Regions from separate parts of the Homo sapiens genome. Here regions 1 and 3 are each reported to be linked to region 2. The links are microRNA targets in miRTarBase. Many come from high-throughput screens and were not tested one by one. Region 2 holds a microRNA gene; each other region holds the end of a gene's coding sequence.
The links. The annotated mature microRNA hsa-miR-590-3p reads UAAUUUUAUGUAUAAGCUAGU and lies in region 2 at 4,962-4,982, opposite strand. An mRNA with a match to its seed (bases 2 to 7 or 8) in the 3' UTR can be bound and repressed. Matches are read on the target gene's strand: a 7mer-m8 pairs with bases 2 to 8, a 7mer-A1 pairs with bases 2 to 7 and ends in A, and an 8mer does both.

Region 1: miRTarBase lists RAB9B as a target of hsa-miR-590-3p. Seed matches in the 3' UTR shown: 7mer-A1 at 6,440-6,446, 7mer-A1 at 6,433-6,439 and 7mer-A1 at 4,423-4,429.
Region 3: miRTarBase lists MSH3 as a target of hsa-miR-590-3p. Seed matches in the 3' UTR shown: 8mer at 5,711-5,718 and 7mer-A1 at 5,199-5,205.

The regions. Positions count from the first base shown.
Region 1 is chrX:103,818,572-103,825,772 of GRCh38, forward strand. It overlaps RAB9B (RAB9B, member RAS oncogene family), which reads right to left. Exons shown (of 3, transcript NM_016370.4): 3 at 3,756-7,201. The coding sequence ends at 6,608. Among named protein-coding and RNA genes, the nearest start is that of RAB9B, 10 kb to the right of the region's middle.
Region 2 is chr7:74,189,034-74,196,234 of GRCh38, reverse strand. MIR590 (microRNA 590) reads right to left here and starts at 5,037; the gene lies at 4,941-5,037. It overlaps EIF4H (eukaryotic translation initiation factor 4H), which reads right to left. Exons shown (of 7, transcript NM_022170.2): 3 at 6,498-6,562; 4 at 6,317-6,413; 5 at 5,929-5,988; 6 at 1,357-1,494; 7 at 1-1,066. The coding sequence ends at 927. RefSeq lists an enhancer at 1-96.
Region 3 is chr5:80,874,518-80,881,680 of GRCh38, reverse strand. It overlaps MSH3 (mutS homolog 3), which reads right to left. Exons shown (of 24, transcript NM_002439.5): 24 at 4,866-5,930. The coding sequence ends at 5,819. Among named protein-coding and RNA genes, the nearest start is that of RASGRF2, 82 kb to the left of the region's middle.

The DNA of each region.
Region 1 (7,201 bases), not on the chromosome of region 2:
ATTAAAAGTTTAGCAATATGGGTAATTGTGGTAAACCCTTCAATACAATATTATGCAAACAGCAAATATAATCTTAGAAGAATATATGTCTTAGAGAAAAGTTAAGTACTATAGATATATATTAAGTAAAAAAGATTACAGTGTGTGCAGTATCAAATCAATTTTAAAAATACATAAATATATTAAAATCTACACTAAAATGTTAAAATCTGCTTATCTCAGGTTAATAGGATTACATTACAGATGACTTTAATTTTTTAAATCTTGCTTTTCTATTTCTTTCATTACTTCATTTTTCTACGGTGGATGTGTATGGCTTTTGTAATCAGAAAAAAAGAACATTTTAAAGCATTTATCGGTCACTCTAAGTTTTCTAGCAGGGAACAAATGGAAAAAGAGAGAACTCAGAGGCTACTGGCACTTGTTCATCTATTAACAGACTCTATGTTGAGCAATATATTACAGGACACACCCTTGGATATGTCGTTTCTAAGGCAGCCAGGAACAACGTAAGAGAAAAGAGATGATATGAGCCTGTTTCTTGCTTCCTCATGAATGCACCACAGGAAAGTGTGATTTGTATTTTTACTCTAATCAATATAGCTAATGTTGAATTAAGAGCTATTTCTTTCATTAAGGCAGCATTTCCCAATTCTTTTTATCAATCAGTTAACTAGATGTGGCACAGCTTGGCAGGTCTGATTAAAATTCAGGAGTGTTATAGTGAGACCATTATACATTTACCCATAGTTCATACAGCACGAAAGGAACTGACAGATTACTTAAAAATACACATGCTTGCACACACAAAACCCACTGTTTAAAAAGACATTTATATATAACTGAATCATCATTCTCTGTGTTTCCTTGGAGAAGGCAAAGAGATTTATGAAGACACAAAGATCACTGCAGCAGTTTCTATATGACTACAGGTGACGACGCCACATCTTGAGCTGTGAAGATGCTTATTTTCACTGGGAAAATATTAAGTAACTTCTTGCCCCCTTAAAAAAAAACCCTTTCACACATTATTACCACTACCATCACTAGCAGAATAAGAGATCCTTGCTCACCAGTTTTGGCAAGCATATCAGTAAGAAGGCATTTAATAATTTTTCCTTTATTCCATAAACATGCCTAGCTTTTGTCATTATCCCTTCCTTCTCTTAAAGAGAAAGTAGTAAAGAATGAGAGCTCTTTTGGTGATGGAAACTTGAGGAAATTAAAATGACCAGTTTGGAAAAAGAAAACATTAGTGAATATCCCAAATCATGCACATTAACGTTTTATCAAAAGGTGTATGCTATGCTCTGAATCTTTTTGTCCCCCTCCAAAATTCATAGGTTGAAATCCTAACCCCCCAAGGTTATGGCATTATAAGGAGATGGGGCCTTTGGAAGGTGATTAGGTCACAAGGGTGAAGCCCTCATAAATGGGATTAGTGTCCTTATAAAAGAGGCCCAGGAGAAACCCCTTCCCCCTTCCACAGAGCTGGAAGGTGCCATCTGTGAACCAGAAATCAAGACCTCACCAGACCCTGAATGTGCGGATGCCTTGATTTTGGACTTCCTAGCCTCCAGAGCTGAGAAATGAAATTCTGTAGTTTATAGCCTACCAAGCTTATGGTATTTTGTTAGGGCAGCCCAAATGGGCTAAGACAGTATATTACAGTTTATCTGCCCTAAAATCAAGTGTAAGAAAAACACTGCACTGTAGTAAATTTTACATTTCCACAGCAAAGAGAGAAAAAAAGTGAAATGATTATCTAGATCACTGAGGAAAAAAAATTGCTGCAAGATCTACTTTGGGTAATTCAAATGAAAGTAGAGATGTCCATCCCACCTCCCAGCTTGAAATTACTCAAATTGATACCTCGATTTTCCAGTGTGTTTTAAAACTACAGTTACAAGATGGAAGACAAATTATGTATTCCACACCTTCCTGTTTCTGGAAGGACTATCGCCAAACCATTTCCAAAAAATGAGACCGTACTGTTTCTTAAGACATCATGAGGAGATTTCCCACTGGGTTATGAATGAGGCAGAAAAACATTAAAGACAGGAAGTTGGCATTCTGTTTTTAAAATATCAGTTATGGGCCCCGGTGCATTGGCTCACACCTGTAATCCCAGAACTTTGGGAGGCCAGGTGGGTGGATCACTTGAGGCCAGGAGTTCAAGACCAGCCTGGCCAACATGGTGAAGCCCTGTCTCTACAACAAATACAAAAATTAGCCAGGTGTGGTGGCGGGCGCCTGTAATCCCAGCTATTAGGGAGGCTGAGGCATGAGAATCGCTTGAGTCCGGGAGGCCGAGGTTGCAGTTAGCCAAGATCAGGCCACTGCACTCCAGCCTGGGCAACAGAGCAAGACCCTGTCTCAAACACACACACACACACACACACACACACACATACACACACACACACACACACACACACACACAAAGTTAGCTGGGCATGCTGGTGCATGCCTGTAATCCCAGCTACTCAGGAGGCTGAGGTGGAAGGACTGCTTAAGTTCAGGAGGTGGAGGTTGCAGTGAGCCAAGATCAGGCCACTACACTCTAGCCTGGGCAAAAGAGCGAGACCCTGTCTCAAAAAAAAAAATAATCAGTTACAAATGAGCAAATCCTTATTAAGTGGCTTATAAATCTATGACTTTCTATATTCTAAAAGTTGCATCATTATAGACTAGTCAAAATGATTTGGGGTGCTGCATTTGAAGCATGGTCTGATAATGTGTTAAATTATAATCCTCAGAGATGGAAATGGTACATGTGGCAAAAAAAAAAAAAAAAAATCTGTTTCCCAACAAATTCCCCACCCCCAATTTCAACTGCCCAAAGTTGCAACAGGCAAAAGTAGACAGAGAGAAGAGAGTGAAATCTGTGGCAGATGGAATCAATGTAATGAAACTATATATGCTGTGGAAAGATTTGTGTCCATAATTTTAAAACCGCCATTATGTATATTCAAGCCATTGGGTGCTAATGTATCTTTAAAATCCAATATGTGAGAGGCAAGAGAACAGAATATTTAACAAAATTATTCTTTGCTTTTCTTATTTGTTTCACCTATATTTTCATGTTTTCCTAAGGTCTGGACAATTCACCAGTCAGGAAAATAAAGGGAATATGTCTACTCTGTTTATATTTTTTGATGGTTTAACATTTATCTTATTTTTTATGCAACGTTGTTTATTATAATATTTTTTCTTTTATTTGTATAAATTTAGGGGGCACAAGTGCAGTTTTGTTATATGGGTATATTGCAGATTGAAATCTGGGCTTTTAGTGTACCCATCACCAGAATAGTGTACATTGTATCCATTAAGTAATGGTTTTAAATTATAATAAAGAAATAAAGTGGAAAGTTAAGATTCAATTTCCAGTCCCAATACACGTCATGCATTAGAAAGTGGTTAAACCCATGAGTTTGAGGCTGCTATGAGCCATGATTGCGCCACTGCACTCCAGCCTGAGCAATGGAGGGACCCTGTCTCTAATAACTAAATAAATAGAAAGAAAGTGGTATAAAATAAAAAGGACCTCCCTGCCCCAATCTTTAGAGTTTGCTTCACAATCAGTATAGAAATATCTGATCACTAGATAGTGGCTGCTTGGAGTACCACATGAAACATGATCCAGAGGCCACATCCAGTGCAGCCTGAAAGAGTGACTTGATTAATAAGTACTGTCCATCACACCCACCAATTTCTCAAAAAGAGAAAGGGAGGGAATAAACACAAACATTGTGTGCTGGTTATTCAAAATGCACTTTTTATTCACTTTAACACAGATGATTTTTTACAGTTGAAAGAAAATATTTGATACACAATTTTGAGTTTTTTTTAGCAGCACCTGCAACAAGAGGATTGTGGAATACCTCAGAATAAAGTAGAGATGGCTGGGGCAGGCACAAATTAACCTGATATTCATCAATCCACTGAAGACATATGGAATCTGAGGCCCCTGAAAGTTAGCCAATACATGACAATAAACTAAATAAATATTCTGTATGATGTTTTAACAGACCATTGAAAAACAGTATAGTCCTAATTAGAAATATATTATTCCAAAAATCTAGTGTTCTTTAAAAAAACACCTATTGAAAATATTACACTGCACATTCTAGGGTACACAGTCAATTTCTAAACCTATATGCACAGTTCTTGGTACTCACAGATTTCAGCCTTTGGTGTTTTTTAATCTTACCCAAACTGTATGTCAGCACCCCACTGAGTGTTGCTTACCCAAATGCCACTGTTTATGTCACTTAATGTTGAGTGCTTTCATTAAGATATTGAGTGGTAATTTGGTAGAAAACAATGGTATGGCTAAGAGGAAAGGGGCTCCAGCTGATGGGCCAATAAAATTAACACTTGTCTTAGATGGACAGGATGCCTATGAATCCGATACCCATGTAATTTTTTTTTTTTTACTCAAATGACCACATGCCACTCTAATAGAGACAAATACTTTTGTGAGTTGATAGAGGTCTTTATGATGAAGGCCTGAGATCTACAAATAGAAACTAGTATAAGCAGAGTGCAAGTAGAAAGAGAAGGCCCCAGGTCTCATGCACTTAAAAATAATTAGCATTTAACAGTTCTGACGTACAGATTTTCACCCTAACATGATTGTAGCAAAATGATCACAGAACTTGGAAACCAGTGTGGCTGGCTATAGGCATAGGCAGGATAGGGACCAGTACTTAAGAGCTGTGGGGTCCCAGTTCTGGCTTTGACTTCTGGCGTCAAAGTTAATTGAACAATGGTGTCAGGATTATATCTTAATTGGAAATATTGAGTATGACTGAGTTGAAATACTGTCCTCTTCTTTTCTATTTGGCCAATATGTCCCAGAGCTCTTAAAGCACAAAGGTCCTACATGTAAGTAAGGCTGATTCCATACGTGGCTACAATGGAGAGTTCTAGGCTGTATTCCTATGAAAGCTCCCACCCCCTTCCTGGCCTAGGTCTCTTTTTGGGGTAATTTCTGTCTGTCACTATTTTTATCATAGATGTTTTAAAGTACAGATTAAAATCTATGCAGGGTAAACAGATCAACCAACAAGAACCACACTGCATATTCATAATATAGTATATAACTGACAGTCATGGTAATCAAAAATTGTCAAACCATTTTTATATTTTAACATGGGAGCTTTAAGATGTTTTTTATCAGTCACATAAAGATTACTCAGAGCTCAAGAATTTTTCCTGCCACAGTGCAAAAGCAAAAGGAAGAGCTATGTAGTTGCTGTTAAAGATTGATCACAGAATGGTTTGAGAATTTTTAAAGTCCCTCTCCATAGTCTTAGCTGTTATCATCAGATAAATCTAACCACAGCATGGCACTGATGTAGTTTATATATTCATAGAACTTAGAGCCAGAAAGGACTTTATATTGAACATGTAGCCAGCACAGAAAATCTTTTTATGGTATTCTAACAGATGGTCATCCAGTGAATATTTTCAGAGGCAGGGAGCTCACTATTAAGGCAGTCCATTCCACTGTTGGACAACTCTGTTTATGGGAAATTCATTCTAACACTGGGTTAAGATCTGCTCTTCTGTCACTTTCAATGTCCTAATTAGGCTAGTTGAACATACAGTGCAACATATAAGAAACCAGTTCCTTCTTCTGCAATAAATATTTGAGTTAAGGAGCCTTGTGAGAAAAGTTCATTATCCCCCAATCTTTTATGAAGCCTTCTCCATGAGCCCAGCATGTTGGATCAAAGGACCATCTAAATGATGAGCAGAGAGCACTGCATCCAAATTCATATACTAAGCAGCATTGCTAAATTGGTAAGAGGTTGTCAGAGAAGCAACATCTCTATGCAGCAAAAGTAGACTTAGGAATTAAAAGCAGACCAACCATTTATTTGCAAAGGTGGTTGGCATATTTAAGCATAATCCATTCACTAGTATCCTATGACTTCAAACACAAGAAGTATAATCAATTGCCAGTGTCATTAGAGTATCTCTTATTGAGATGGGATTTTTTGAAAAGCTCAGATGGGAGCGAACCATACATAAGGATTTAAACAAGTCAGTGTATATCATTATACTTTTGCACTCCTAATCATTACAACTTCTTTAATTCAAGCCTAGGAATCCTTATTTGCATTATTATTTTTATTGTAATACAGCTCAAAGTCTGATTTTTTTCCCCTTTGGCAGAAATGTCAGAAACTGCTTGGCAAGAGTCTGATAGTGACATTTGTTAGTTGATTAATGGAACACTTTAAGAAATAGTTGTAGCTCTTTAACTCCTTCATGCAGCTGGGTTCTAGGTTTAAACTGTGATTTAAAAAATATTTAACTGTCTCAGGACTAAAATTTTCTGATATGTCCTGAGACACACAAGAAGGGGAAATAGCAGAAATCACGCAAAATACACTTGGCTTGATAGAGCTTCATTTTTTTTAATTTTTAATTTTTTTAAATCAATCTACACTTCAATTTGAAAGGCTCTGTTTCACAATCAGAACCTTGTCTCTTACCCTCTTGTGTGCGTGTGTGTGCACTCTTAGAGGGGCACAGTTATTCTTACACTACTGACTGATCAATTTGGGGCACATTTTTAAAAGGCTCCCTATCTTTAACAGCACGAAGACCCTGCTTTGGAGCCACTGTTCAAGTCAATGGTGTGACCCAACATGCAATGCTCCAGCTGTTCCTCTACAGCCAGCACCTGCCTGACAGCTTCTTCAAAGGCCACTGTCACATTAGTATCATCTTTGGCACTAGTTTCTAAATAAGGGTAATCCCCATTCTCCATGCACCAGGTTTGTGCCTCCTCAGTAGTCACTTGCCTATCCTCTTTGTCTACCTTGTTACCCAGAACTACAAAGGGGAAATGCTCAGGGTCCTTCACATCCGCATAGTAAATAAATTCTTTCTGCCAGTTACCAAGATTCTCGAAGCTCTGCCGATCATCCACGCTGAAGGTCAAGAGGCAGCAGTCTGCTCCCCTGTAGAAGGGTGTCCTAAGGCTCTTGAAACGTTCCTGCCCTGCAGTGTCCCAGATCTGGAGGGTTACAAAGCGTCCATCTACCTCCAGATCTCGATTTAAGAACTCTACCCCTATGGTGTGAAAAGCCTGGGAGTCAAATTTGTTGGTTACGTAACGGTTCATAAGCGAACTTTTCCCAACTCCACCATCACCCAAGAGAATGACCTTTAAGAGCAGGGA
Region 2 (7,201 bases):
TGCGTCAGCGCCGCAGTCAGCCCAGTGCAGCACCAGCACCACCCCCTCCACCCCCAAAGCGCCTTGGCCCAGCAGAAAAGAAACCCGCTGGCCATTCACTGCACCCAGCCAGAGAGGCCAGCCTCCACCACGCACGGCGAAAGGAGTGAACTAGCTGGGACACACACACGTGTGAATGCATGCAAGCATTCACTGCATCTTCTCCGTGGACTCCCTACCGCTCTTCCATAGCCCCCCCTTTCAGCCTCACTGTTTCTCGTGTGAGCCTATCTGCTTGGACAGTCCACTCGGGAGGGGGTCATGGAGCCAGGACTCCCTCTAAATAGGAATGGAAAGGACCCTGCAGATATTTTTATCCTAGTTGTGAAAACAAGGTGCCTCTGATTCTCTATATCCATCACAGCTGAATACCAACAAGGTCTCTGCTGTTCCCTCTGTCAGTGACTCTGGTTTTTGTTGGAAGCCCCAGCAATACAGAACTCAACATGCAGGTCAGAAGAGAAGCACTGAGGGAATGAAAGGAAACGCCTGGAGTTGGGCCAGTGTCTAAAGTAAAGAGAAAGCAAAGGAAAAATGACGCAGCACCGCAGCCCAAACGCCCCCCCACGGCGGCCACCTCTGCTCCTCCGAGGAACCCCATGTGCTGCTGGGAAAACAAGGAGCAGGAGAAAAAGGACAGAAGGAAAATGGGGAAGCAGCGGAAGAAAGAAAAAAACGCACAAACAGGCACTAGATAGATACAGCAAAGCCCAGAATGTACTAAAAACCACTTGTTAACAGCTGACATGCACTCACAAGCTGTGTTTCCGCTGTGAGGAGGCCAATGGCAGGCGCAGGAGTGGCGGCTGCAGGACGGCTGCCCGGGGACTCACCAGGCTGTGGTCCTGCTCTAACCCCCCACGCCCCATTCCCTCCCAACCGCAGGCTCATTCTTGCTCCTTTTGAACGACTTCCTCTCTAGGCCTGGCACCCCCGAAGATAGCAGAGTTGGGATTGGCTACTTGATTGAGGGGCGTCGCGACTGTTCGAGGTTTAAGCTGGAGTCGTGGTCTCTGTGCTCTTTCCTCTGGGGGAGAAAAAGCAGAGTTTGTCAGAGTGTGGATCCCATTCCATATCCAGCAAAACGACCATGCTGATGTTGCTGTCAGCAAACCAGCCCACTTTCTAAAATTCACCTGGCCTGCTACCCCAACAGCAGATGCTCTAATGACCAAGGTGAACTTGCTATTCCAGAGAACGTGGGGATCTATGCCGACAACTCTGTGTGCCGTAGAACGCCAAGTCCCCACGGGGTGTGAACCGGCCATGATCATCCCATCAGGACAAGATGCCCTCCACTGACACATGAGCCCGTACCTTCTGTGGGTTCTCTGAAATCCATGTTGGATCCACGGAGGGGAGGGCCATCTCTGAAGCGGCTGCCCATGGGGGGGCCTGTTCGCCGGTCGCCTGGGCGACTACCTCCCCTGCCCCCTAAGAAGTCATCCCTGAAGCCTGAGGAAGAAACAGGACACTGAATTACTTTTCAAACTATCGTCTCCAAGCTGCTTATAGAATAATGTTCTGGGAATTGTTTGAGTTTCATTTTAAATTCTTTAGTTTGTCCACTATCTGAAGTCTCTCCAAAATAAAGTGTGTTAAAAGTGGGTCCAAATGCCAATGTGTGGAGTAATGACAGCGCTAACAGACTTCCCAAAGAAAAAGGAATCAAGATCTTAGGAGAGCAAACAAACGAGCTGTTTACATGCTCAGCTTGCATGAAAAGTAGAAAAATATTAATACCACGAAACTGTATTTTAATACGGCTTAAGCAAAACAAGAAAGCCTCAAAGCAGGTTGAACTCTATTTTCTAATAGAAATCTATACAGCTATTTTAAAAGATAAACCTGAAATTTAGAAGTATTTACAACTCAGAACACAAAAATCACAAGAAAACGCTATATGAAGACAAAATAAAAACACAAAGTCCCAATTTTCCTGTTTTGGCTGCGTTTTAGGTGTGGGCCATTCTACAAGCAAAGCACCTGTGTGGTAAACAAAGCAGTTATCCGAAATTGGCCATGCCCTACACAGAGGGGCATGAGCAGAGAGCACAGCGCCTCACCCCCACCGGCGCCTCCTGTGGGGGCAAAGCGTTCTTTCCCCATTCATTTGTGTGCCTGCTAAGTGGGCTCTTGGCAGAAGTAAACTGCATCTCATTTAGAAATGCTGAATTCCCACTGGTGTGTAGGAGGAAAGAGTATTTTCTCAATGGTCTTAAGGGGCCTTCAGGCTTGTACTTCAGTGAAAGCTAAACTTTAACTGTATAACCTACTGATGTTAAAATTTGGTAAAAAGACTGGTTCACGCCTGTAATCCCAGCACTTTGGGAGGCTGAGGTGGGAGGTGAGTATAGGAGTTCAGGACCAGACTGGGCAACACAGTGAGACTCACTCTCTACAAAAAACACAAAAATTAGCTGGGCATGGTGGCGCACGCCTGGGGTTCCAGCTACTCATGAGGCTGAGGCAGGATAATCGCTCGAACCTGGAAGGTAGAGGGTGCAGTGAGCCAAGATCGTGCCATTACACTTCAGCCTGGGTGATGAAGTGAGACTCTGTCTCAAGGAAAAAAAAAAAAAACTGGCGAAAAGAAGTTAAACCATAATTAAACAAATGAGCTTGCTGCTGTTGGTTGCGCACTCAGGGGGTGCCACTGCTACTCTCTGCGAGAGTGGTGCCAAGGCTCCAAGCTTTCAGGGAGCTTGTCTTTGAGAAGAACCCCCAGAGCCCGCAGTATGCACTATACAGTCATCCTCATTATCCACAGATCCCATATTTGCAAATCCACCCAGTCGCTAAAATTCATGTGTAATCCCAAGCTAGATACCAGCAGCATTTCTCCAGTCAGTCCTGGACCTGCACAGATGCGACGATCCCAGCTGAGGCAGAAAACGATAATGCTCTGCCTGTTTCAGTTATTAGCTGTCAAGTCTTTTCACGATGAGTGTCGGGTGTTTTGCCCTTTGGGCTTTTTCTGGTGACATCGCTGTCTGAAGTGGCCCCAGGTGCAGTGTGAAGTGCTGTCTGCTGTTCTTAAGTGCAGGCTGGCTGTCAGGTGTCTTACAGACAAAACCGGTGTGGGATGAGCTTTCTAACAGGCTGAAATGATGGCACCACAGACTACTTACTACAGCTGGCCCTGAGTTCAATGTTAACACTATTAAATGAATCAACACTAACATTAAATGAGGCGTCTTTAAAATCAAGGTCACATAGGCTGGGTGTGGTGGCTCACGCCTGTAATCCCAGCACTCTGGGAGGCAGAGGTGGGCAGATCACCTGAGGCTGGGAGTTCGAGACCAGCCTGACCAACACGGAGAGACCCCGTCTCTACTAAAAATATAAAAATTAGCTGGGTGTGGTGGTGTGCGCCTGTAATCCCAGCTACTTGGGAGGCTGAGGCAGGAGAATCGCTTGAACCCTGGAGGCGGAGATTGCAGTGAACCGAAATCATGCCACTGCACTCCAGCCTGGGCAACAGAGTGAGCCTCTGTCTCAAAAAAAAAAAAAAGAAAAAAAAAAAAGTCACATAAAGCAATGTTAGGTATGATCAGCTGACGAAAATGTTGTGATCTGTAGCACACAGGAGCAGCACCGCACGGGCTCATTCAGTGTTCTAGCAACTCCACAGAACCACCTCCAATGATAAGCGCTGACTGCATCACCTGTGGTGGGGGCCGATTTCTATTCTTTAAAGGTGGCAAGGGTTTTGGAAACCAAGGGATCTCACACCCAGTTCAGAGACTGAGTTAAATAATAAATTTTAACAAACCAAGTAATGAAAGCAAGTCTGAACAGATTTAGACCAATAAGAGCACTGCTTTAGGGGAAATACACTGGGAGGCATACAGTCGAGTATAAGGTCCTTTACAAAGTATTTTACCCACATTACACAGTTCAGTGAACAAGCCTAGTTAGTATTAAAACATTTAACTTCACGTTTCCCCCAAACTAAACTGTGAAGTGTACCTTTCCACGTGAGTACAAAGTAAATTTACACCCTTTACTATGAGATTAAATGATTTCGACCACCAATGTCTAGCGTGAAACAAATAGCTCACACCACGCTGGTGAAGCAGATGAACAAGGATCTCTCATCAAATCTGTTGGTGGGGGCCGGGCGCGGTGGCTCATGCCTGTAATCCCAGCACTTTGGGAGGCCGAGGCAGGTGGATCACGAGGTCAGGAGATCGAGACCATCCTGGCTAACATGATGAAACCCCGTCTCTGCTAAAAATACAAAAAATTAGCCGGGCGTGGTGGTGGGTGCCTGTAGTCCCAGCTACTTGGGAGGCTGAGGCAGGAGAATGGCATGAACCCAGGAGGCAGAGCTTGCAGTGAGCCGAGATCGCACCACTGCACTCCAGCCTGGGCAACAGAGCAAGACTCCGTCTCAAAAAAAACAACAACAAAAAATCTGTTGGTGGGTTTCTAGGAAGCAAACTATTCATGAGAATCTTCAGAGTTTTCTTTACAAAGCTTAGTTTAACACTGGCTATTTCTGATGATGAAATGTTTTTGCTTTCTTGGTACTTTTCTGTTGCTCTATTTTGTTTTTTACATGAGCAGGTATCATTAAAAAAAATAGCACCATCCTATTAAAAAGTAAAAAAGATCTACTCTCGCAAATAACGTATAAAGTATCAAATTAGCCATTACTCCATCGAGTGAGCCCACATAGGGTTTGAGATGTCACCAAAACACTGCAGTTCCCACCAGAACTGGTGGCGGCCAGGCCATGGCCGTGTTCACTGTGTCTCTGCTTGAGCGCCAGTGGCCAAGCTAAGCCAAGGGTAGAAAGACGTTAGTATGTGGGCAACTTCTATAACACCTGCGAATACCAAACTGGCAGGGGAAAGGCCGTTCCCTGAGCTGCTGGTTGGCTCTAAGAAGACAGCTGCTGCATGTTTCAATCAGAGACTAGCTTATACATAAAATTACAGATTGACTTCACCATACTGCACTTTTATGAATAAGCTCATTTCTGACTGGCTACAGGACTTTTAAGAACTATATTATTCAACAGGTAGTCGTCACCTGTTCAGCCAAAGCTGAGTTTTTAAAAATCTCAGACTCACAAGACAGCGTGCACCAGTCCCTCCCATACTCACCCACTACTTTACACCGGTTTTGTTTTGATGGGGGGAGGGTGCTGACGTTCTATACAGCACAGCATTGACAGCACATCCCAAGTTTGCGGGAAAGAAAACAAATTTGTTTTTCTCTTCCTACCTTTCTGGGTTACAACTGAAGTTTTTATCATGTGCATATATAAAAAATTATACTTTTGTAATTTAAAAACAGAAAGTAAAGATGATAAAAATGCTTAAAATCACCCTGCAGGGCAGAGGCCTGGCGTGTGGACTGATGCTTTGTGCTATACCACCAGCTGCTCTGCCTGGGTTGGCTAAGAAAGAGAACGGCGAAGTGCATCAGGTCCACCATCAAGGGACTGGACCTCCCCACAATCCTCCAAGAAAAAAAAGGGCCATCAGGACTACCTTTCACCATGTAAGAACCCAAACCTCTATCCTATGTTTTCCAGAAGGAACAGTACTTCTCTTGGTGCCATACACAAAACCACAGAGGAGTTTCCCTGGGCTAGAGTCTGAGAAAGACTGCTGAGCGAGCTCAAGGACCCAGGCCCGTACACATCCAAGGAGCTGCAGGCTAACAAAGGTGACCACACAAGGTGCATGGGGCTCAAGTCCTGCCCCCACAGGCTCTAACAGAGGCTTACTTGCATGCCTGGGCACCCTGCAGGAGAGTTGTATTTGTTAAAGGAACTAAATAAGTAGTCCGGCCAGGCGGGCTACTCGTAAGAAACAGAGAACAGCAGCAAGGCTCCTAGGAAAAATTAAGTGGTGATACTTTAAATACTGATACCAGAATTGAAGTCATCCCGGGAATCCCATCCACCTCTAGATTCTCGAGAGCTACCCATTCCTGAGGATACACAAAAAAGATAAAGTTGAGGTCGTGTCATTACCTTGCTGCGCAAACATGGAAAAATTCATTTGGAAGACATACAACTCAAGTGATGGAAGGTTCAATGAAATCATTTTAAGAGCTTTTGCTTCCAACAGAAAACAAAAAACGCCAGGCTTGCAGAAGCATCAGCCATTCTTTCTAGGATTTTACGCAAACTTTTAAGAGCTCACGAGAACCTATCACACCTATGAGATAATCGAGTTCTACTAGGAACGTTCACGAGTTGGAATTGGTAGGCATACTGCAAATCTTTATGATGTTCAGCTTTAGAAGAACCAATCACCTCTGTCATCTGGTCCACCTTTTCTGAATCCAAAGCCACCTTTATCTTGTTTTCTGCCTTCTGCAATGTCCACACGAAGTGACCGATCGCCCAACAGCTAATGATAAAGGGAAAATAGTGTAAGTATTGGCAAAGAAAACAATCTCAACTGCTATGACAGAGAAAACCCGAGGATACTTACTGCACCATCGTATGTCAAGGCTTCCTTAAGGGAATCCACTTCATCGAATTCTACATAGCAGAATCCTGGAAAAGAAAAGAAGACCCCGATTTCCTCAAGTAATTCTGGGTTAAAGATGTGGGAAGATCCTATTCATACTACTTCTCCACGTCACAACTACCATTCTGTTGTCTAGATGATGGCAGACTAGGAGAGCCTTTCAATAGATAGAACCCTGACTGGCATTCCTCCCTCTCAATTCTATTTTATCAGTCAGAAAATGCTAACTGAACATGCACTGAAATAGCAGCTGCGTTTCTAGAAAGCTTTCTTCTTGAATGTTTTAACCATAATATTCAAACCTTTCTCAGGCCATCTGCAGAGCTCTTCTGACTTCTGAATGACTATTTAATCTAAGTGAGGATTAGATTTCGTAGATTTCAAACTTGGTACCTAAAATGCTCTGAAGAAAGAGGCTTAAAGTGCCGATTTAACTTACTACTCAGGTAACTGACATAAAATTTGCTTCACAAAGCTGAAAATATATCCTTGGCAATCAGGGCATTCTTCTCTGAATGTTAATTAAAAGACAGGCAGCCTGGGTCCAAGTACCTGTTACTGACAACCTGTGTCCCTGATGCCAGGGGTCTGACATTGCCCCTTCCTTGCTGTCTGGAGTCTAAATCTAGTTCATTACTCCCCAGATGCTGGCACTACACCCTGCA
Region 3 (7,163 bases), not on the chromosome of region 2:
AGAAGAAATGAGCTGTCAAGCTATGAACAGACGTGGAGTAAGCTTGAGTACATGTTATTAAGTGAATAATAAGCTAGTCTGAAAAGACTACCTACTGTATGATTCTGGAAAAGGCAAAACTATGGAGACAGTGAAAGGATCAGTGGTTGCCAGTGGTTTGGGGTGAGTGGGATGCATAGGCAGAGCACAGAGGACTTTTAGGGCAGTAAAACTATTCTGTGTGATACTATAATGGTGATTACATGTCATTAGAAATCTGTCCAAACCCATAGAAGGTACAACATCAAGAGTGAGCCCCAATGTAAATTACGAACTCTGGGTGATAGTGTTGTGACAATGTAGGTTCATCAACCGTAACAAACATGCCACCACGGTGCAGGATGTCAATAGTGAGGGAGGTGGTGTGTTTGAGCAGAGGGTATGTGGGACCTCTCTGAGCTTTCCATTCAATTTTGTGATGAATCTAAAAGTGCTCTAAGAAATAGTCTATTTTAAAAATAATAATGAAGTTCCCTAGACCCCACACCAGATGCAGTAAATCAGACAGAATCGTAAAGAGCAGTCATGAACCAAGGAATATGATTTTTAACAAATTTCTTTGGAGGCCAGATCATTGGCCATATGAGGAAGGAAAAGGTGAGAGAACGTGATGAAGGGATGACAGAAACTAACACTGGTATTTCTGTGTCCCAACTTCAGAGATTCAGGTTCAGTAGCTTTAAGGCGGGGCCTAGAAATCCACATTTAAGAAACTCCTTTGGTGCTTCTGATAAGAGGGCAAGACATTCCTACCTCCAAATGGGAGCTTTCTGGAAGTAGGATTAAGAAAAAGGGGCTTGAGGTTGAAAAAGAGGTGAAAATGGCAGACAATATTTCTTTTCTGATGTGAAAATAAAATACTGTTTTGTCAAAAAAATAAAAAAAAGATAGCCAAAGGCAATGAAGAGAGGATCTGAGCAAAGGACAAAAGAACCAGAGGCAATTCCTCCTCCTGAGGAATAATTATTTCTGCAAGAAGACAGTCTTGCTGCGTGTCTCACAAAGTCATGTAGGTGCACATTCCTCACCATGATTTCGTGGAGAAGAGGCAGATGACATGTTATCTTTGGGGATTTAGCCTCAACAACAGATTAAGTAGTAAAGCTCTAACACACCAATTAGCAGAGCTGTAGCTTCTAAATGCCACAATACAAAGCACTTATCAAGAACAGGCAAAAACAACTGGCAGGTCTTTAGGGGAAAAACTGGTTCATCCAATGGGTAAGAAAAAAATGAAAAATTTTTTAGATGACATTTAAAATGTAGCAAGTCAGTAACTGTGCTCATGGAATAGCACCTATAATTGGGGTAACTGTATGAGTTATTATCCAAAACAGGACACTTTTGAGTTAAAGAGGCTTTTAATAATTATGCCAGCAAAACAGGTATAGAATAGGACTCCCCAAGTAAACCAGAATGAATGGCTCTCAAACTGTGGTACTTCCCTGGATATTAATAGACCGAATAATCATGATATATAATAACTAAAATGTTCCACAGAGGAATTGGCCTTAATTACAAAGTTAGAAACCACAGATGGTGTTAATACAAGTTCTTTTCTCTCTCCACCCATATCCTTGGTGTGAAACATCAAATAGCCCTTTTATAATTACAAAGCACAGCAGTAATTAATATTGATCTCAGAACTCAGTAAAGGTCAACACTAATTTATAGAAAATTTTGGATTCAATCTAGTTTTTACTCTGGAATTGATGCAGTGGGCAGTGTTTCACCAGCCCCAACACCATCACCATGATGACGACAGGCACAAACTTGGAAAAATTGTCTGAAAAAGTTTTTTTTTCTAAAGATATAGCACACTTCTGTATGGATCTTGAATCCCTAGTGAAATGGTGCCTTCATTATGAAAAGAAACATCTTTTCATTGGGTTTCTAAGCTGAAGGAGTTTGGTTTTTCTTTTCCACTTTAACAAATATTAATTAGGGTCTACAGTATGCTACACTCTGCCCTAAGTGACAGATAAAGCAGTGGACAAACAGACCAAATGATTGTCAACTCAATTAAAAATACTGTTTAGTCATCTGTCATCTTTGAGACTAATGGTTCACAAACCTGACTGCACATCAGAATTACTAGGGGAGCTTTTTAAAAAATATTATGCCTCGTCACATAAAAACCTATACACAAATATTCATGGTAGAATTACTCATAATAGCTAGAAATAGAAACAATCCAAATGTGCATCAACTAATGAATGGATAAATTAAAATGTAAGGTATACATAAAATGGAATACTTTTTACCAGTTAAAGAGAATGAAGTTCTGACACACAGATGAATCTTGCATCTAAGTGAAAGAAACCAGACACAAAAGACCACATATTCTATGGTTCCATTCATATGAAATGTCCAAAATAGGCAAATCTATAGAGACAGAATGAAGATTAGGGGTTGTCTAGGGCTGACGATCTTGGGGAGGAATGCAGACTGGCAGTTAATAGGTACAGCATTTCTTTTTAGGGTGATTAAGAATGTTCCAAAATTGATTGTAGTGACAGTTGTACAAGCTTGTGAATACACAAAAACCCACTGAATTATTCACTCTAAATAAATTGTGCAGTATGTAAACTATGTCAATAAAGCTGATAAAAGAATACTAAGCTTGGATCTCAGTCCAAAAGTCTATGATTCAAATGGGAATCATTTGATTTTCATATTCAGCACTGAGAAACATTGAGATAAATTAAGTAACTCAAATGCTGAGGTTTTTATATTTTTTTTCCTTTAAATGTTTTTTTGAGACAGAGTCTTGCTCTCTTGCCCAGGGTGGAGTGCAGTGGTGTGATCTTGGCTCACTGCAACCTCCACCTCCTGGGTTCAAGCAATTCTTCTGTCTCAGCCTCCCGAGTAGCTGGGACTACAGGCGCATGCCACCACACCTGGCTAATTTTTTGTATTTTAGTAGAGACGGGGTTTCACCGAGTTGCCCAGGCTGGTCTTGAACTCCTGAGCTCAGGCAATCTGCCCACCTCGGCCTCCCAAAGTGCTAGGATTACAGGTGTGAGCAACCACGCCCAGCCTTTAAATTTATTTTTACCTTACAAAATTTAATTTTAAAAATTCATTTTTCCTTTTTTCTCTTTTTAAATTATATAGTCCCATGGATTTTCAAATATTTTATACTAGTTATATAATAACACTATTTTAAAAACTATATAGAATAAACAGCACTGAGGAGAGATGAAGCAATAGAAAGGTCAAAGTTCAAACTTGTTAAAATATGTTTGGCTTTGTTTCCCTAAGGTTGGAATTATTAAACTGGTGTGACTTTAGAAGGTTTTCGAGGAATTGGTGTGTGTTACTGCAGAATCACTAGCTCTTAATTTGTAATTTGATGGCTAAAAACGGACAAGTCACTTAAAGGAATATATCGTATTAAAAAGTTACTTTCCTTGACATTTGGCCACCAGTCAGCCCTGTCTCCCCTAGCCTCTGTCTGAAGTATGGAAGACATTTAGCCTGCAGGCTCATGCCTATGCAGTACCAGAGGGAATGTGGAGGGCGCTTGCCATGCACCAGCAGCCCTATTCTCACCTGTGTGATTATATCTAACTTTAGAATTGCAGCCCCAAGATGGTTATCTGAAATACAAACCCACTTGTTTGCAACTTTCTGCCTACCTCCCCATGGCATTTGTGCAGTCTTTATGACTGGGATTTGGCCTCAACGTTTCCTCCAATATCTCAGTAACCCAGCTGGGGATGAGTCTCACTTGGAAATGCAGTTCAGCTGTGCTGATCTCTTCCCCAGCTTGGAGGAGGCCTGCCTTCCCTCAAGCTGGCCGCCTGGCTGGCTTCCTGATCATGCTGGACAATCTACCCTGTAAAGTTCCACGTTGTCAGCTGCCAGACACTGTGTGCTGCCACTGCCAGGACACAATGCTCCTGGAACCCCTACCTGCTTCAGTGTTGATGCTGGCCTGGACCAAGCAAGAGGGAGAGGTGGCTCCAGATGTCCACCTGGACATTACCAGTGATTGCTGGTCCCTGCAGCTCCCTCTGGCATGGGCATGAAATTCCTGGAGTTATCTCCTTTTCTCCCTGTGAGGTGAGGTTACAGCACTATCTTTGAAATCTTGTTAGAAAAAATATAAGACATTTACAGTTATATAGAGTATTGGAACAATTTTGTTCTTTTTAAAATTTAAAGCGTACATTCCAACTAACTATTTTGACAGTTTTGAGAATCTGACTATACGTTCATATTTCTGGAGGGGTGGTAGAATCAATCAAATTACATCACACTCTAACTCCAATAAGGTTGAGAGTCAGATAGCTAAAGAGTGACTGACTCAAAAGTGAAGCCACAACTTGGGGACACTGTATTGACTCCTGTGTCTGGCTGGGGTCATTGCTGGGATCACTGAAGATAATAATCCAGAAGAAGGAATTAAAAATATGTCCATCAAATGTGGGGAAGACATTTAACTGAGCAGAAATAATAAAAGAGAGGAAAATAGGATGGAGAGCTTTTGTGCAAGATCATATATTTAGAAACAAAAAGAACACATGGATCTGGGAAGCCAGATTGTAAGTGCTGTAAAAAACCCAGGGACACAGTTGAGCACGTGTTACCCTAAATTTGCAGGAAGGGAGCACTGTTATGAATCAACTAAGCTATAAGGCTCATTACTGGGAAGATGATACACCTGATATGTTAATGAACAGAAAGGTCCCAAATGAACAAGTTCACTTCTGTGTATTGCGCTGGTCAAAGCAGTAACCTTAATTTCATAATTACACCTTAAAAAATGACAATTTCCAAACACTTGGAAACACCAAAATTCAATGGGACATACCATCATCTATAGCAAGTATTCATTAAATATTTATTACTTGAATGAATGACAAATAATTTCATCCAACAATCTTTAAACTGCTTAATCCTATGACAATATTTAACCTTTTAAATTTCATGACCTTATTCCTTCTGTGCTCTAGTTTTTAAAAGCTTGATAATTCTATTTCTTTTCTTTTTTCTTTTTTTTTTTTTGAGATGGAGTCTTGCTCTGTTGCCCAAGCTGGAGTGCAGTGACGTGATCTCGGCTCATTGCAACCTCCGCCTCCCAGGTTCAAGAGATTCTCCTGCCTCAGCCTCCGGAGTAGCTGGGACTACAGGTGTGCGCCACCATGCCCAGCTAATTTTTTCGTATTTTTAGTAGAGATGTACTTTATATTTTTAGTAAAGATGGGGTTTTGCCATGTTGGCCAGGCTGGTCTTGAACTCCTGACCTCAGGTGATCTGCCTACCTTGGCCTCCCAAAGTGCTGGGATTACAGGCATGAGCCACCATGCCTGGCCAATTCTTTCTACTTATAAAAAATTCTTATGTTCTTGGTGGATAAACTGGTTGCATAATAAAATTATTTTAGTTCAATGGATAGATTCCTGCCAGATTCACCCAGTTGCCAATTATCTGAACTGAAACAAATAAAAATATCAAGTAAATTTTTATATCACCCTCCAAAAGCTTGGGAATTATATTCTGCCACTTAAGGCTTTACTGGACTTACTGTCCATAAAATTTTCTAATTACAAAGTGGAAGTCTATTCAAGAGTGTTTATACGTAGAAAAGTTAGGAAGACAGAAACTTGAAAAAGACTGTCTTCAGAAAAACCTCTCTGTTTCCAATAGGAATATACCATGGTCATAATTTTATGCTCACATGTCACACAAAGATAGGCTGTTACTGGAGAGTTATTTTGTACAGTTGGTATTTTTAATTCTCCATTTTTTGTTCACAAATGTAGTCTTCATTTTAATGAAGAAGAGAAGTCTGTGTTTCTTCCATGTTGAACTCCTCTGTCCACTTCTGCAGGTCTTGTGCATTATGCATCGTCCATAACTTTGCAAAATACTTGAGTCTCTTTCTGGGGAAAAATCAAATACTACTTATTTAATAAATGAAATTGCTGGGAGACAATACGTCTCATCAGAAGCTATGAAAAGTCTATAACACTTGAATACCGGGCAGGCTCTATAGTTAGGAAGCTGTGTCAGTGTCACCCTTCCAGTGAAAGGAGCTTTCAGAGCTGCTACTATAATCAAGGGACCCAGGTTACCAATTGCCACTATTACCTTTGTGCCTTCTCCTAAAATCCTTACCCCTGCCAGCCCCAGAGGGGAGAACCTGACCTCCTCCTCCTTCAAACTCTGCTAGAGGCTGGTGGTGTGTGCTTATTTGTACCTGGAGAAAAGAAACTCCTATGAAGTGTTCCCAGGATGAAAAGTAACACCAACCGAAAACAATGAAGCTAATTAAAGAGTAAAACGCCAGCATAACACAGACTTACTTTTTTTTTTTTTCTGCAGAATAGCAACCCAATTGACTATTTAGGGTATGGAGCTAGAGTACCTGAGTTCCAATTACTGCTCCACCATCAAGTAGCTGTGTGACTCTGGGTCAGTGTCCTGTCCTTGCTGGTCTCACTTTCCCCAACTATACCATGAGGATAAGGCTGCCATAAGGATGAAATGAGATAATGTATGTAAAGTGATGAGAAGAGTAGCTGGCACAGTGTGTAGGCTGCTGCAAATGACTGCTCAGAATGGTTTCTACACACAGTAACCATCCAACAAATAGCAACTATTATAACAAATCCACAGTAAGGCCCAAGATGCAGTTTGATTTCTTTGATCTGGCCAAAGGAATTGATGTGATAAGCACTTTTAGAAAAAAGGTAAAATAACAAATACAGTATCTTGATAAATGATCAGATTCCATCCCAATGCAATGTCTTCTAATAATTCTCTCATCTTGTCAAGATAACTTCATAGAGTTCAAAATGTCACTTACTAGTTGGAAGAGTTAAAATATTTATGAGTAATCTGAGAGTTTTTTTGCTCTTGCTTTATAGGCTATATAGCAGAAACAAGAATATATGAAAATATAGAAATTGCCATATTTTATTGCTATCTTGCATATATTTCTACAGCAAATTTAGAAATTGACATATTTTATTACTATCTTGTATATATATCCTTTGTAGTAAAGTTTTATTCTAGGTTTTTTTCAGAGAAAAAGAACAATAATAATATGGCAACTAAAGAGTTTAATTTGTCTCTGGACTTTGCAGAGGAAGAGGGCTAAGTTTATTTTTAAA